Regions from separate parts of the Homo sapiens genome. Here region 1 is linked to region 2. The links come from fine-mapping of genetic effects on gene expression. Tissue or cell type: cerebellum. Region 2 holds a variant in brackets; the other region holds the start of a gene. All regions are shown on one strand. Distances are from middle to middle.

Evidence for each region. PIP is the estimated chance that this variant, and not a neighbour inherited with it, causes the effect.
Region 1: HOXB-AS1 starts here. The variant in region 2 is fine-mapped to the expression of HOXB-AS1 in cerebellum (GTEx, PIP 0.93).

The regions. Positions count from the first base shown.
Region 1 is chr17:48,540,122-48,548,121 of GRCh38, forward strand. It overlaps HOXB-AS1 (HOXB cluster antisense RNA 1), which reads left to right and starts at 4,230. Exons shown (of 7, transcript NR_102279.1): 1 at 4,230-4,291; 2 at 5,000-5,236; 3 at 5,374-5,443. HOXB2 (homeobox B2) reads right to left here and starts at 4,988. Exons shown (of 2, transcript NM_002145.4): 1 at 4,400-4,988; 2 at 2,534-3,626. The coding sequence starts at 4,790. The coding sequence ends at 2,947. RefSeq lists a silencer at 3,114-3,403 and an enhancer at 3,211-3,856.
Region 2 is chr17:48,262,261-48,270,520 of GRCh38, forward strand. The region is part of intron 4 of SKAP1 (src kinase associated phosphoprotein 1); the gene reads right to left. Among named protein-coding and RNA genes, the nearest start is that of SKAP1-AS2, 28 kb to the right of the region's middle. The variant G/A (reference allele first, on the strand shown) is at 3,200.

The DNA.
Region 1 (8,000 bases), 280 kb after region 2:
GGGCCAGGTAAAGTGAGTCAAAAATTCTGAAGCATGGAGGAAGGCAGAAAGCAAGGTGGCACTGTGATCTAGCAGTACTTCTCAAACTTTTAAGTGTACATAAATCACTTGGGGAGCTGCTAAACTGCAAATTCTGATTCAGTAGGTCTGATTCAGGGGCCTAAGATTCTGTATTTCTAAGTAGCTCATAGGTAGTGCTGATGCTGCTGGTCCATGGAGCAGCCAGGCTGCAGAGAACTGGTGCATCGGAGGCCCTTGAGTGCTGCAGACCATGATGGGGGATAGGAATTCTCTCCTGCAGAGCCAACTCTGCATTTTTTTGGCATTGAGGAAGGGTGCTCTCATTTTGACCAAAGAAACTGGAAGGTAGGACATTAGCAAGATCCTTGTGATATTCTTGATCTTTGTAACAACCTGCTATAGCTAGCTGCAAGAGCATTTTTAATTAGACCAAATTATCTAGTTTGACTGTCCATAGAAATCAAAGCCCCAGCTGAAATATCTGTTCATTTTGCTAGTGTAGAGATGGCTTGTGTGCTGTGATTTTTAAGATGTTAAACACTGCCTGTGGGCATATTTTATGGAGAAATAAACACACAGCCCAATGAGATGTATAGCGTAGTTTTAATATATTGTATATTCCCTTATTTATGGGGAAAATAAACACATAAGCCAATAAGCTGTGTATTACTACTTTAATATATTGAATTTATTTCATACCTATATATTTTATGAGGGAAAATAAGATACATGACATTATTATAACACATCTAATTGTTCTATATTTATTTATGAGAGAAATAAGTGCAATTTAACATGATGTAAGATTAATGCACGAGATGAATTCTATATTAAGACAGTTTAAGGGATTAAGTTCCAGCTAACTAAGAGGTGTGTACTTCCCACACTGAGGGACCCATTTTAAAATATGCAAAGGGCCTGTCTAGTCCTCTGTGTCACAACCTATGTTGGCTCCTGGCTTATCCTGACAATTGCTGCCTCTGGGTGACTGGTACTCTAAATCCCGGTCCTGTTGGTCCAGGGGAAAGTCTGGAGGCCCAGGAAATAAACTGCTTTTTGAGAAGGGCAGCATCTGCCGGGGAGATAGCCCCGTAGTGTCTGTTTCTGAGCGGGAGAAATATTAAAGAAACCTAAGGAGGATGGATGGCTTTCCGGGGACCTTTAAACCTCCACCTTCCCAGAACAAACCAGGAGGCAGATGGGGGAGATCGATCCTTGCTTCCCGCTTACCAGGTTTACAAGGAACCAGGCAGGGTGTGGTGGGGGATAGACAGGACATGGTGTTGATACGTGAAATGAAGTTGTTGGTCAAGACTGGTGGGTCTGCATTCAGAGAAAGCTCTGGCCTGGCTTCAAATCCCACAGCGAAGAATCAAAAGTCAGACTGGATGAGGCACACCCAGGCCCGCAGACCCGCCGCTCTCCTTCCCTTCCCACATCCACCCGGACTCTCCTTCCATCTCGCGTCCTCAGCGTCCGTTGGGCTCCACTTTAAAAATAAAAAAATCAAACTAACTAAAACGAAGGTGGGACCCCCCAGGCTCCCCTTCTTCCCTGGCCTCTGGAAAATCCAGCTGGGAGGACGCAGGGGCGGGGGCAGATCCCGGCTGGGCCGGCGCCTCCTGCAGCGGCTGTCATGGCGGCCACAGCTTCTTCCCTCGCCCCCCCCCCGGCCCGCCGCCCGGCCCCAGCGCCATTTTGAGCATCGTCTTTGCTTCCCTGTCTCCCTCCCGCTCTCCTCGCTCCTCCTTCTCTCCCCGCAGGTCCAGCGCCTCGCGACGCTGCCGGGCCACCCTGGGCTTCTCGCCCGGCTGCTGCTTGGATGGTCTCCCAAACCCCAGCAGCCCGAGTCCATGGGTGTCCCGGCAGCGCCACATTTCTCAGCTGGCCTCTTTTCTTGCCCACTGGGAAGCCAGTTACCATCCCTGGGTGCGGGACCCTGCTTCCCGAGAAAATCCCCGACCCCACTCCACTCCTTGGAGAGCCACCTACAGCTCCCAAAGAGGCCCGGCTCAAGCCCCAGGCCTCGCGTCCCTAGGCTTCTTGAGTTCGGAAAAAGGTCCTACACCGGCTTCGGTCATAAGAAGCAAAAGCCTAGGAAGCCCTTGGATTGTTCCCAATTCCAGTAAACTTCTGCCCCCGCCACGACCCTGAAGACTGTCCACAGGCTTCCTCTCCTTTCACCCTCCTCTGTTCGCTGTACACTCTCTCCCTCGACCTGCCCATCTCTATTTCCAAGCAGAGGCCCCAGAACCACCCGCTCAGGACCAAAGACCCTCTGCTGAGGGGCGGGGAGGTGACCCAGCTTCCTGCAAACTCCCGACTTTTGCCGGAGCCGTGGGCGAAGCGGCCATCAATCGGGTCACCTTTGTACCACCCGGACTTCGCCGGCCCTGGAGGCTTTGCTGCCATATGGGCCGCTGAACCTAATCAACTTCGCACAGGTCCTGGAGGGGTGAGGACCGGCCTTGGGGCCGCGGGGAAAGAGTTTAGGTCCCAACACAAACACTCGTTTTGGTATTATAAAGACATTTATTTAATCTATGAAAATAATGTACAATAAATACTTTCCCCTTTTCCTATTATTAAAGAATTTTAATAAATAATCTACAGTCTAAAACATAAAAAAGAGGAAAATAGGTCCCTCTAGTTATTTTTAAGAAAGTCCCCCTAGAGTTTAATTATTCCTGAGATTTCATTGGAAGGAGTCTACCAAACGGAATTTTTCTGTGTGAATTTTAAAAGATAACCGAGTGCCCAATATTTTAGAAGAAGAAGAAAGGGAGTGGATTAAACGCTAATTCAGTAATACCTGAATTTTAGCAAAACACATAAGTCTATGCGACTGAGGGTGGGAGAGGCTCGATTTTTCCAGTAGACGGCCAAGGAGCGCGGGGGTCGAAAGGACCGGGAGGAGGAAACAGGTTAGGGAAACTGCAGGTCGATGGCACAGAGCGTACTGGTGAAAAAATCCAGCTCTTCCTCGGAAAAAGGGACCGGGCTGTCGAGAGAACCCTGTAGGCTAGGGGAGAGGCCTCCGGATAGCTGGAGACAGGAGTCGGCCGCGAAGAAGTTGAGGTCGGGAAGGAAAGGTGAATCCTGGCGCCCCGAGAAGACGTCTTCTGGCAATGGCCCGGGCTCCAGCCCGCCGGCCCCGCGCAGCGCGCAGCCGGGACTCGACGCGCCTGCGCCCTCTAAGCGAACGGCTAAAGGCCGGGGGTCCGCGCTTAAGGCCCCCGGCACCACCTCCGGCGGGTGACAGCAGGCTTCCCACGCCGCCCGCGAGGCGGAGGGGCCGCCCGGGCTGGCCGCGGGTTCCTCGGCAGGGTCGCAGATGTCCTCCAGGGCTCCCGGGCAGGCAGGCTCCCCATCCGGCGGCTCTCGGTGCTGCGTCTGCCGCTTGTGCTTCATGCGCCGGTTCTGAAACCAGACTTTGACCTGCCTTTCGGTGAGGTCCAGCAAGGCCGCGATCTCGACGCGGCGTGGCCGGCACAGGTACTTATTAAAGTGGAATTCCTTCTCCAGTTCCAGCAGCTGCGTGTTGGTGTAAGCCGTGCGCAGCCTGCGCGCCCCGCCGCCACCAGCCTCCGGCAGTCCCAGGCCATCTGCAGGGAAAACAGGCTCGGCGTCATAGCGGGCCGTGTACTCAGCCCAACCTCAGTTCGGACTACCCCATCCTCCAAAACCAGTATCACCTCTCCCCTTCCTCGCCACCCCACCCCCGCCCCCACCCCAAAGCCGCTCGCTTTACTGCTTTTGGGTTTTCTTCTCTCCCTCTCTAGTCTACAGCCCCGGCCCGGGTCAGGGCAAAGCATTCAGAGCCGCCCACGGGCCACGCAGGGGGCGGAGAGCGGCTCCCTTCGGCGCCGGAACCTCAGATCCCCCTCCCAAGCCCTCCCAGTGGACCCCTCAATTCGGAACTTTCCAACTCAACCGGAGCGAGGGTCAGAAAGATTGTTCTTCACCCCTCTTCCTCCCTAGCTCTGAATTCTTCCTCTTCTCCTAGAGTTGGGGCAGAAAGGACCGAATCTTTTCTGCTTCTAGGGTCTATCCCAGCAACAACATACTCATTCCCCTACACAGATACGGGTGAAAACCTCAATCAAATCATTTTCTTCTAGCAGAAAAAAAGGCGTTTCCCCAACCAGCTTCCAAAATCAGCCATAGGGAGAGAAAGAGAGAGAGAGACAGAAAAAAAAAAAGACGCTGTTAGCGGCCAGGCCTGAACCCCAGTGGGATATTCTACTTCCCCATCCCAGGAATGGAGGGGGTAAGGAACCCCAACAGGCTCGCCACCATTTTTTTTAAACCTCCTTCCACTGCTTTTTCTCCCCCTCTTCTAGCTGCCCCTCACCCCACCCCCACCACGCTTACCGACCTGCAGGCGATCCGACCCCGGAGGCCGGAACGGCGGAGGCGGCCGGAGAAGGAGACGTGGCGGATTGGCTGGGTTTCTTGGCGGATTTCTTCTCTTTCATCCAAGGGAACTCGGGGGCCGGGGGGGCAGCGGGGAGTGGCGGCGGCGGTGGCGGCGGCAGAGCAGGCCCATCTTCGGCTCGCTTTTGGCTCCTGGGTCTCTGAAGGGTGGAGGCGCCGGGCTGGAGGCTGGGGAAGGTTTGCTCGAAAGGAGGAGGAGGAGGAATTAATGTCGACTCCTTGATTGATGAAGTTTGAAATGTCTCCAAGACAGCGGGGAAGGAAGTCAGACACTCGGCGAGCGACGGCTGGCTGTTTATAAACCCAATCTCCCTCTCAAATTCAAAATTCATGGCTTTCAATGGTGGGGGAGGGGGCTGCTGGGGGGGGCGTCAGGAGGGAGGATCGGAAGGGACCCCCCTCCTGCACCCCCCCCGATTTATGTAATGGAGCGATTTTGGGAGGGGGAGATTTCGGTCTCTCTTTTTTTTAATTTTGGGCCTTTATAATTGTATATTGCTGATAAATACAAGCGTATGGGGACTCTCTCTATTAAACCCAGGACTCCAGCGAAATTACAGGGAATTCGTGGTCACGGGACCGGCCTCCGCCAATCGCTCGTCTGGGCCTGGTGGAAAACAGAGAGCATTATTTGGTTTAATTGATTCAAAAACACCAGAGGACCACGACCAGGACACCATGAGCCCCCATTCCTACACCAGTGCCTCACATGCTCTCTCCCCAATGCCTCCGTTTCTCCAGAAAAGCTAGAGGAACCTTTTCCTCATCCCCTTCGAAGGTTAGAAGGTTTCAGAAGCCTGGAAAAGAAGAGACTCTAAGGGAGAAACCTTCCTCTTTTCCAAGTATTTTAATAGAGTAAATTAAGGCCTTCTTTACGTGGCCAGCAGCATCCCCTTCCCTTCTCCCCTTCCCCAGGAAAAGATGAGTGAGGATCTCCGCGTTGGAGGAAGAGGGAGTCGAAAGAGGCTTCCACTCTTTGAAAAAGGTCAGTATTAAGGTGAAAATAAGAAAGAGATTTACAATCATCACACCACTATCCCTGTTACCCTCCAAAAACAACAGTTAAATCTTGGGAAATGGACAGGAACTCCCAGGCAGACACATAGGAGTGAGATGGAGCATAAGGGGCATTTTTGGGCCTCTGGCCTCCATCGCTGTATGGTCTGGGTTCTCTTCTCTGCCCAGTGTTTGCAGCACTGCCTCTGCCCCTTATGTACCCCTGCTTTCCTCACTTTCAGGCTTCCATGCTTCTCTGTGACATCCCCCAAAAACAGGCAGAGTCTAAGATGTGCATGTACCCACTCAAGCCTCAAGCTTGTATCTGTATCCATATCCAGGGACATGAACAAGAACTGAGGTAGCCATTGGTTTAACTTAGAGCACTCTCAAAGTTCAGATCAGCGTTATGTGTGTGCATGAGTGTGGTGGGGAGATTTTCCCCTAGGACAAAGAGACTTTCCCTCCCATTTTTGCCATTGTGCTAGTTAAAAAAGAAAAAAGAAAAAAAAAAAAAAAAGAATCCCTGACAAGGAAGAATTCCCTGAAGATGGTAGGGGTGGAAATAATGACCACTGAGATGATATTCCATTTCTGGCTGCTGGGGGAAAATGTTTTTAAAATTTATTTTATTTTGAGGAGACCAAGATAGTCTGAAGTTTAGAGTGTTGTAATTTACTATGGGGAGAGGGCACAAGACTCTGAGCCCCAAGCAATTGGTGGGAAACTAGGCCTCAAAGCAGAAAATGAAAAGTCGATCTGGGGGAAGATTTTTAAATAAGTGGGTCAGACGGATGGAGAGGAGATGAGGCGATCAATCTTAGCCCCCTGACAGCTCCCTCCGATTGCATCAAAGAATTTGGCTCTTTGGGAAAGCAGAGCGAACAGCCAAAATTTCACATCCCTTAAAAAGGCCTGGGGGTGGGGGTGGGGGTGCAAAAGAGAAGGGTGATTCTGGGAGAGCTGGGAAACAGATGGGAAATGGGGACAGAGGGAAAGCGCTAAGTTGGGTGGAAAGTTTGCCTGGAGAACTCCCATGGCTTTGGCCTCCCCTCCCCCTCCTCTCTCTCTGCTGCCCAGCCAGGAGGAGAAGGCTGGTTAGCAGAGAAATGGCAACTGAGCCCGGAGCTGGAACTAGAAACTTTCTGTCAGTGTAACATCTGCGTGAGTACTTAAAAAGAAGGACAGAGAAGTCTGAGTAGAAGCATGAGGGTGGGGGAGAGGAGGATGGAGAAAGGGGAGTTGGAGGTGGGGGCTGCAGGGACCGAGGAGGCATGCTCTGGAGGGCTCAGAACAGAGAGAGCTGCTCTGACCTGGGCAAAGTGGCCAGCGACAGTAGTGTGCAACTAGGCTCCAAAGAAAACAATTTTTGCCATTTAGAGGTGTGGATGGGGGTGGGCATAGAATAATCCAAATAGTAGCTGTCTGGAAGTCATGCAGGGAGGCCTGAGAGTGGGTTCTCCCTCTGGCCACCCCCTTGAACACCTCTGAAAGTTTAGCAACAGCTTCTGTAGCTGGCTGAAGGATCCAGAGCTTATCTCAGGCAACTCGGGCAGACTGTCCCTGCAGGAAATACAGCTCTCTCTAACCCTCACTGACAGATTTTATGGCCAGATTAGCAAACAGCGGAAAACTTGGGTGTTAAAAGGGGCCCAGAGAACCCTCCTTTTCAGAGACATCCCTCCCCCGCCCCCCTGTCCTGCTGTGAATTTAACAGCACGGATATTTTACCCACGTCTTTGGCTGCTTTAGCTGAGCGCCTGGAATCTTCCAAAGAGAAGGATAGGGAACACCAAGCCAAGTTGGTTCTTATTTTTCTTGTTTGCAATTCCAGCTTCGAGCCAAAGCTCTGTTTTTCAAACTTAAGCTAAATTCTCTTTCTTGGCCTCTTTCCTGCTAGATAAATAACAACCCAACCCAGCCCCAGAGCCAAACATGGTGCTTCATCTAGTTATATCATTCAGAAAATGTTATTCAAGGAAGAAGAGAGAAAGAGAAAGAAAGAAAAACCCTTGAGCGTTATTTGATCCCAATCAAACTTTGCACGCTCTTATGCCTTTAAATTATAGCCTGACCCAATGCTAAATTGCTTGCTGCTTGGATGAGTCCAGTTAAAATCCTACTTGGTGGTGGGGAAGGGGGAGGGCGTAGAGTTCAGGTTGCTTTTTTATTGTTATTTATTGTTGCATAAAGACTATAATTACTAACCTTGGACTGCCAGGATGCAACATAAAAATGAAAATCAGCCCTCTCTTTAAGGCAGGGCCTGGAACGATTCTCACTCCCCCAACATCACTACCACCAAATATATGCTCCTAATTAAGCAATGCGGGCACATCGCTTACAATTAGAATTATGCAGCTCTTCAGCAAGCAGCCATCGCTTCTCTTTCAACGAATTAGCTCCATATTTCAGCCGCCCTGTCTTCTCGCTCTTATCGGCTCCAGCGACTCGGCGGTGACATTTCATCTTTGACAGACCTTCTCTATTTTCACTCCAATGTGATAAAACTTTTATGGAACCACAACTAAGAAATGAAGTTTTCC
Region 2 (8,260 bases):
AGTACATTTTAAGAGTCTCAGTAGATAGCAAAGAGATCATAAAAATGACTCACCAAAAGGCATATATTAAAATTGGACTGGGATGCATTTTTAAGAAAGCCAGAAAACTCCAAGAGCATAGCTTCAGAATAAGAACAACACATGGTTTTTTGGGGGGGAAGTTTAATAAACTGCAGTTTTGGATTACCTTAATCCATATCCTTAATCCACAAAATTCTGTCATTCACTGTTTTGGGCAATGTGACATTATATTTTATTGTAAAGTATTATAGTATATTTCTGTTTGATGAGTAAAAACTTGAACAATTAAAATAAACAATGTATATTGTAATCTCATTGCATGAAGATTTGATTTTCCTATTCTGTTGTAAATTTTAAATTTCTTATCCTGTTAAAAAGCCCATAAAACAGATTTTGTGAACATATGTTTTATGAGCCAATGCCAAAGTAAGAGTGGTAAATCCCTCAGTCACAGACATAATCTTCAGAAGTCAACACTTAATTATTCAGCTTGTAGATTTTCCATGCTTTCCTGTCCCTCCTCCTTGGTATTTCATTGCACACACACACTTCTTTTAGAAAGCAGGCAAACAAAAGAAGTAGAAGAGATGAAACTCAGACTTGAAGGTGTGGATATCTGTAACATTACTTTGAAATGTTGTCAGCAAGGAAAAAGAAGCTAAAAGATAATAAAAATTGTTATCATTTAAGAATAGCTTTCATTTCAAAACAGTATTTCATGTGCATTTTTTTTCAAATGTCTGTTTAAAAGTTTTTGCAAATTAATTGTGGTTAGGATGTTTCAAACTAACACAGTAAATAGATTTTCACCTCAAAATTGTACCTACTTAAAAACATTTAAATTTTACTTAATACTGACTTTTAGGTTGATTCTTCAGTAAACAAAGTGAGAGCTTGTCATTAACTACCAGCAGGTGGTGGTATTCACAAATAGGGTACAAGAAATACTGAAAGGGCTATGAGTATAACCAATATGTGGTTCAGATTTATGGATTATGGATTTTAAAACATTTTTAATGGAGTTGTCAGCACACTGAAACTACTTCCATTCCCATCTGTTCCATATGAATGTGGAAACTTGGAAGTCACCTTAAAATATGTGCCTGTAGAAAGTTTTGCATTAAGAACATTGGGTCTCTTTATAAAAGCAGACAAATATTTTCTATTTTTAAATATTTAAATTTTCTGTATAACAATGAGCTTCAAACATGCACAAGTATCCTGACTCTTCCAATATTTTGGGGGCCTCTAGGTTTAGAATCTGATCTATCTTCTATTCAGGGCAGACACGTATCAAGAGGGAGCACTGACTGTATACTTTAGCCAAGCTAACCTGAGCAAATGCTGAATGGTGGGCACTGTGCACACAGTTGCTATGGAGAAAATATGTCCGTTCTTGTCTCCAAAAAAAAGGTCCCAGGTTTCAGAGGATACAGAAGCAACAAGAGGCGGTGAACTCCAGTCATCGAGTCAACAGCTTCAGGGGCTTTAGGAACAGGCTGAAATTATTTGGTTTTGACCGCCAGATGACCTCCATTGCTGCCCAGTCTGATGGACAGTCGGACCATTAGTTCTTTTAACACACATTCTTTTCCTGAAACACAGACACCACTCTGCGTTTGCACAGAGCAAGAAAGGAGAGCAAACGAGAGTGTCTGAAAGGGAGAGACAGAGACGTACATTTGCAGAGAAACTTCTAAACCAGCCGCAACCCTTCTACTGTTTTAGGGCCTAGGACTAGAGGAATTCAATCCAAGCAAAGAGACATCAGCTTTTTTTTTTTTATCTAACTTAAAAATCTGACTTTAGACTACAATTAGGCAAGATTATATCTAATAAATGTCCAAAACAAAAACATGGAAATGGTTAAAATTGATTTTTTGTATTTTCTAAAGCATTTGATATCTAGCTTAAAAATCAGCAACACTACTTTATATATATATACAAAATGTATACATATATATGTTTATACATATATATATACACACACACAGAGATCAGAAATAAAGAGGTCTTACTATGTTCTACCTAATGTTAGTTCAGGCTTACTGCAAAATTGTTTTCCACTACATACTACCCAGTTCTTTGAAATCCATTTAATGAGTTTAATTCCCAGGCCACATTACTGTGGTATATGAGATTCAATGTACATTTTATTTGTTTTCTTGGTATGCATGTGTTTTGATGTGTGAATGAAAAGTAACTTTGGTCTTATTATTCTTATAAAACAAATCAGGAGCTAAGCTTTGCTTTCAGACAACCTATTAATCCAAGGCAAAACTGAAAAGCACAAAGATTGTACTCCAAAGAGACCCATAAAGATACTGAACTTTGCCAGGAAATGGGGAGGGAAAAGGGAGTAGAAAAGGAAATTTAGGTAGAGGATAAAATTTTCTATAGATGATGAATCATTCTATCTTTAAATAAAGCAATACTTAAACTTACATTTAATCAAATCTACAAAACACACACACACACACACACACACACACACACACACACCCTCCATCTCCATTTTCTTGTGGTTGTGGCTGACAGAACTGTACTTGTCCCCAGCCTCTTCTGATTTTCCTCTTGGGATAAGTGATGAGCTATGCTGCAGTCAACGAGGAAACATCTGTTTGACTTTCCGAAGCTGGCATGGGGAGCTGAAGTCTGAATCACAAATGCCACTTTCATAAACAGGTCTCCCACAGGAACCTTGCTAAAAACATGACTCTACTGGGGTGAGCCACAGCTCTGGTGAGTGATGGGGAAGGCTGCTCTCCTTTCCAGCTATTTGAAACAATATACACTTTTTATAGGATTTGTCTGTGGTGGGATTTAATGAATTCCAATCTGTTAACAGACGTACCTGAATCCAGTTTTAATTTGGGAAGTTAGTTCATACTGAAGCTCCAAAGGCTCTAAATCTGGGAATTTTTAATTAGTAAGAAAGCTATGGCTGGGTGCGGTGGCTCACACCTGTAATCCCAGCACTTTGGGAGGCTGAGGGAGGCGGATCACGAGGTCAGGAGTTCAAGACCAGCCTGGCCAACATGGTGAAACCCCATTTCTACTCAAAATACAAAAAATTAGCCCGGCATGGTAGCAGATGCCTGTAATCCCAGCTACTTGGGAGGCTGAGGCAGGAGAATCACTTGAACCTGGGAGGCGGAGGTTGCAGTGAGCTGAGACC[G/A]CACCACTGCACTCCAGCCTGGGCCTGTCTCAAAAAAAAAAAAAGCAAGCAAGCAAGCAAGCAAGCAAGCAAGCTATGACACTGTGGTGTGTGGTTACTGTGTTCAGAAAAGACACACAAAACCTCAAATTATTTTTTAAGCATATTGACGTGGTACTTAAAAATCAGCACACAGTTTTCACATTTTATTTTATTCTAGTATTGTTGTCATCAACAATGTGAATAACTCAGAACACCACTCTGGCTAGAGGTGTGTCTAACACACCCGAACTGTAACCTTTCTCTTTCCCTCCCCCCATGAAACTAGGGAGAAAACACCTTTGGGAGCTGTATCTGCCCAAAGGCAAACTCCTGTGGCAGGTGGAACAGGGAGCTGGCCATGCTCCAAATGCCTCCCCTGTTAGAATCTTCACATCTGCATGTCTGTTTAGGTTGTCCAAGTTTTCAACTTAACTTATTTTTAAAACCTCTTTTCTTTAGTTTAGTGATTTTTCTCTTTATGAAAAATGACTGCTTGCTGTTTGATTCCTCTCTTGGGATATTTACTCATTCTCTCCTGAACAGGGCTCTCATTTCCTTGTCAGCACTTGGTTTGGCTGACATCACTGTATGATTATTAACCTGTGAGTGAGCTGGAAATATTTCCGAGATAATCTAAACACACACCCACACCTACACACACCCACACACACACATACACACACACACTAGCCTAGTCTATTCAACTGAAGTATTTGGCAAAAATAATAGATTTTATAAGCTATATCAAATAGATCTTAATGTAAATTGTTAGGCTGGTGCAAACATCATCCTGCATATTTCTAGTTCAAAGGTAGAGAGCATTTGTGTCAGAAAGGAGCTCCTTTATTATTTAAAGACAGTTTCCACCTATCAGAACAGATGGATAGTTGTTGCCTGTAAAATACGAATTATACTATACATAACAATAAATACACTATTGAAACCGTTAGTTCAAGAAATCAAGGCTGTGGCTGGAAAGCAATTTAATTTTAGAAATTCTGTTTTCCTTTTCTTTTTTTCTTTTCTTACTTTCTTTTTTTTTTTTTTTGAGACAGAGTCTCACTCTGTCACCCAGGCTGGAGTGCAGTGGCGCAATCTTGACTCACTGTAAGCTCCGCCTCCCAGGTTCACGCCATTCTCCTGCCTCAGCCTCCCGAGTAGCTGGGACTACAGGCGCCTGCCACAACGCCCGGCTAATTTTTTGTATTTTTAGTAGAGACAGGGTTTCACTGTGTTGGCCAGGATGGTCTCGATCTCTTGACCTCGTGATCCACCAGCCTCGGCCTCCCAAAGTGCTGGGATTACAGGCATGAGCCACCGTGCCCGGCCCTGTTTTCCTTTTCTTATTCCTCTTTTTCTCTTTTTTGAAATTTAAAAATGATATTTCTATTTTACAATTACTAGAGAGAATTATTGGGTGAATGAAGTGGAAATGTCCAAATATACACGAATTTTCTTTCTTTCTGTGACTAGACTAACACTCAACACGAAATGCTTTCACTGCTTGAAGGAAAGCCCTCATAGAACATAGCAGATGGCAGAATTAGCACATAGAATATCATTTTATCATGAAAAAAATGTGATGCCAAGCCAATAATTATTTTCCTCAAATTTGTTTTCCACATCTTTCCCTATACTCAGGGCTCTGAATGTTCCTACAGCATTTAGGATCTTCTGATAAATTTCCAACTTTTGAATTATGAACACTAGTAAGCCTTTTTTAGCTTTAAGTGAAATTAAGACATGAAGTAGATATATAAGTTATTAGGCCTTAGAGAAAAAAAGACAAAATTAGATACTTCTCAACATACATGATTTAACTTAAACAATACCTCAATTTTACTTTGTTCTCACAATCAAAAAATAATGTTGAACAAAAGGAACAGTAGTTGGAGAATTCTTCCAAAATCAATTTTAATTAAACACACACACACACTTTAATGTTGAATATGCCTGTTTAATCAATGATTTTGGCTCTAAGGTGATACAATCAGCATTTATACTTCAAATTACCACTTGGTACTAATAGATACTCTATACACAAGTCCTTAAGGTCAACACCCAAATTATTGCCCTATATTAATCATTAATAACTTAGAAAATGATAATTTTCTAAACCCATTTTTTTAAAAGAGCAAACACACTTGCTTAGTTTAATTTGCTACTATTAAAATGATTTGTGATTAATTTAATATCAATTAATTTAATACTAGATTGCTTACAAAATTATTTACTATATTTCTGTTCTTTTCACCACTTGCTCTTAAGTATTGAGCCATGGGAGATGTTTAGGAACTCCGTTAGGAAGGGTAATTACAGAACCAAAGCAGGGGAGGACCTGACAAAATAGATACCAACAGATAAATGGAGGGAAGGGAGAGATGGAAAGGCACACCATTTCTCATGTGATTATACAGAGGTTGCTTATAGGTACCTTTACATTATTATCTTGTGTTTGTATTATGCCCATTTTACAGATGAGAAAAGCTAAAATCAGAGAACTTAAATGACTTCTCTGAGATCATAAAGGTAGTTAATGTAATAATCCAGTGTAAGGTTTGGAATGCTTTACAAAATGAATCTCATCAAATCCTCGAAAGACAGACATTACTCTTTAGAGTTTCAAAAAAAAGAAAGAAAACTTGAAGAGGCCTCATGCAATATAATAAGCCAATTATAAAAATGAGAAGAAGATGCAAAGGATATCAGTCCTGGGCAACCAAACAATCAGTAGCTAACCCTCCAAATACTGACCTGAAATAATAACATGACAAAAGACTACTTAAAAAAAAAACAAAAAACCCACACCTGTGTTACATATTGTGCTTACTAGTCAAAAGTCCTAAATGACAATTTTCTAAAACTTGAGTACAGGCAATCCTGACTTACAAACCCTTGAGTTACCACCTATAATGTGTATTCATTGCTGTCATATCTGACACAGAGCTGCTGCGGAAAATACTTGGAAGACTGAAAAGGATGAGTTGGTACGAAGTGGAGAGATTCAAGTTAATTTTTTTTTGTTTTTTTTGAGACAGTCTCACTCTGTTGCACAGGCTGGAGTGCAGTGGCGTGATCTCTGTTCACTGCAACCTCCGCCTCCTGGGTTCAAGTGATTCGCCTACCTCAGCCTCCAGAGTAGTTGGGATTACAGGCAGGTGCCACCATACCCAGCTAATTTTTGTATTTTTAGTAGAGACGGGGTCTCACCATGTTGGCCAGGCTGGTCTTGAACTCCTGATCTCAAATGATCTACCCGCCTCAGCCTCCCAAAGTGCTGGAATCGCAGGTGTGAGCCACTGTGCCCGGCCTCAAGTTAATTTTTAACCGTAATGCTATACAAACTAAAACCACAGTAAGATTTTTAAGTTACTTGATAAAACAATTCTGAAATTTACAGGAAAAATAAAGGGGTGAAAATAGCATTTTGAAATTTTGAAAGAGAAAAGTCATGACTGACACTAACGATACTTAAAACATTCTAGAGCTACATAAGTCCTAGTACTGGTACAAAAATAGATCAATAGAATAGGATAAAGAGCTCATTTTAGATGTAATATACTAATATATAATAAATAATGCACCACAAGTAGAAGAGGGTGATTGAATAAATGATTTTGAAGAGAATAGTAATTTGGAACAAGATCAATTTAGATTCTTGTCTCACACTAATCAAAATAAATTCCACCTGAATTAAAGGTAAATATACGGAAGTCAAATTATAGAAAAACCAGAAAAGAACTGAATGTTGAACAAAACTCTAGAGAAGAAAGGACATTTTAAGTTAGAAGTGATAAAAGTAAATAAATAAATTTGACCACTTTGAGAAAAAAAAACAAAAAATAACTTCTGTGTGTAACAACTATCTGTCTACACCAGGACTAGAGATCTATACTAGTCCACTAGATACACTAGAGACTGTTATCTGTCTACACCAGGACTAGAGAATGTGGCATAAGTGGGAAGAGCTTCAGGAAGCTGACCCTGAGGGACCTGTATTTCCAGGCAGAGTTAACCTGCTATAAGGTCATATTCTTGTACAAAATTATGTAACCCACATCGCCCAAATTATTGTGCTCCATCATTATTCCACCTTAAATGCCTTCATTTAGAGATTCATTCATATTTTGAGAACACAAATATGTTCTGAAGGATAGTTAGTGGAGATAACAATCACTCACAAATTGGCACAAAATTAATTAGCTTAGCTTCCTCCTACATCTAGCTGTGATAAGCTGCACTAAGTTAAAGAGAGCTTTTATCTAGTGGGGATGGAAAGTAAGTGATTTGTGAGTTTAATAAAGAATTTATTTTTTATTATTAAAAAATGAGGCCGGGTGCGGTGGCTCACGCTTGTAATCCCAGCACTTTGGGAGGCTGAGGCGGGAGGATCACCTGAGGTCGGGAGTATCACCTGAGGTCGGGAGTTCGCGACCTGCCCGACCAACATGGAGAAACCCTGTCTCTACTAAAAATACAAGATTAGCCAGGCATGGTGGCGCATGCCTGTAATCCCAGCTACTCAGGAGGCTGAGGCAGGAGTATCGCTTGAACCAGGAGGCGGAGGTTGCAGTGAGCCAAGATGGCACCACTGCACTCCAGCCTGGGCAACAAGAGCGAAACTCTGTCTCAACAAAAAGAAAACAACTTTATTATATTTTCTGCGTCCTAAAATATGAAAAACATAGTGAAATTTTAAACGATATGGAAAACATAAATAAATAAAAGTCATCAAAAATATCTCAGTATTTGTGACTTTTCTTTTGGATAACTTTTTTGCATACATGCATGTGCTCACACATACACACCTAATTTTAGCAAAATCAAGTCAGTCTTTAAAAATTTTTTAAATTAATTTAATTTTATTATTTATTTATTTTTGCGACAGAGTCTCGCTCTGTCACTGAGGCTGGAGTGCAGGGGTGGAATATCGGCTCACTGCAACCTCCACCTCCCGGGTTCAAGCGATTCTCTTGCTTCAGCCTCCTGAGTAGCTAGGATTACAGGTGCGCGCCACATGCCTGGCTAATTTTTGTATTT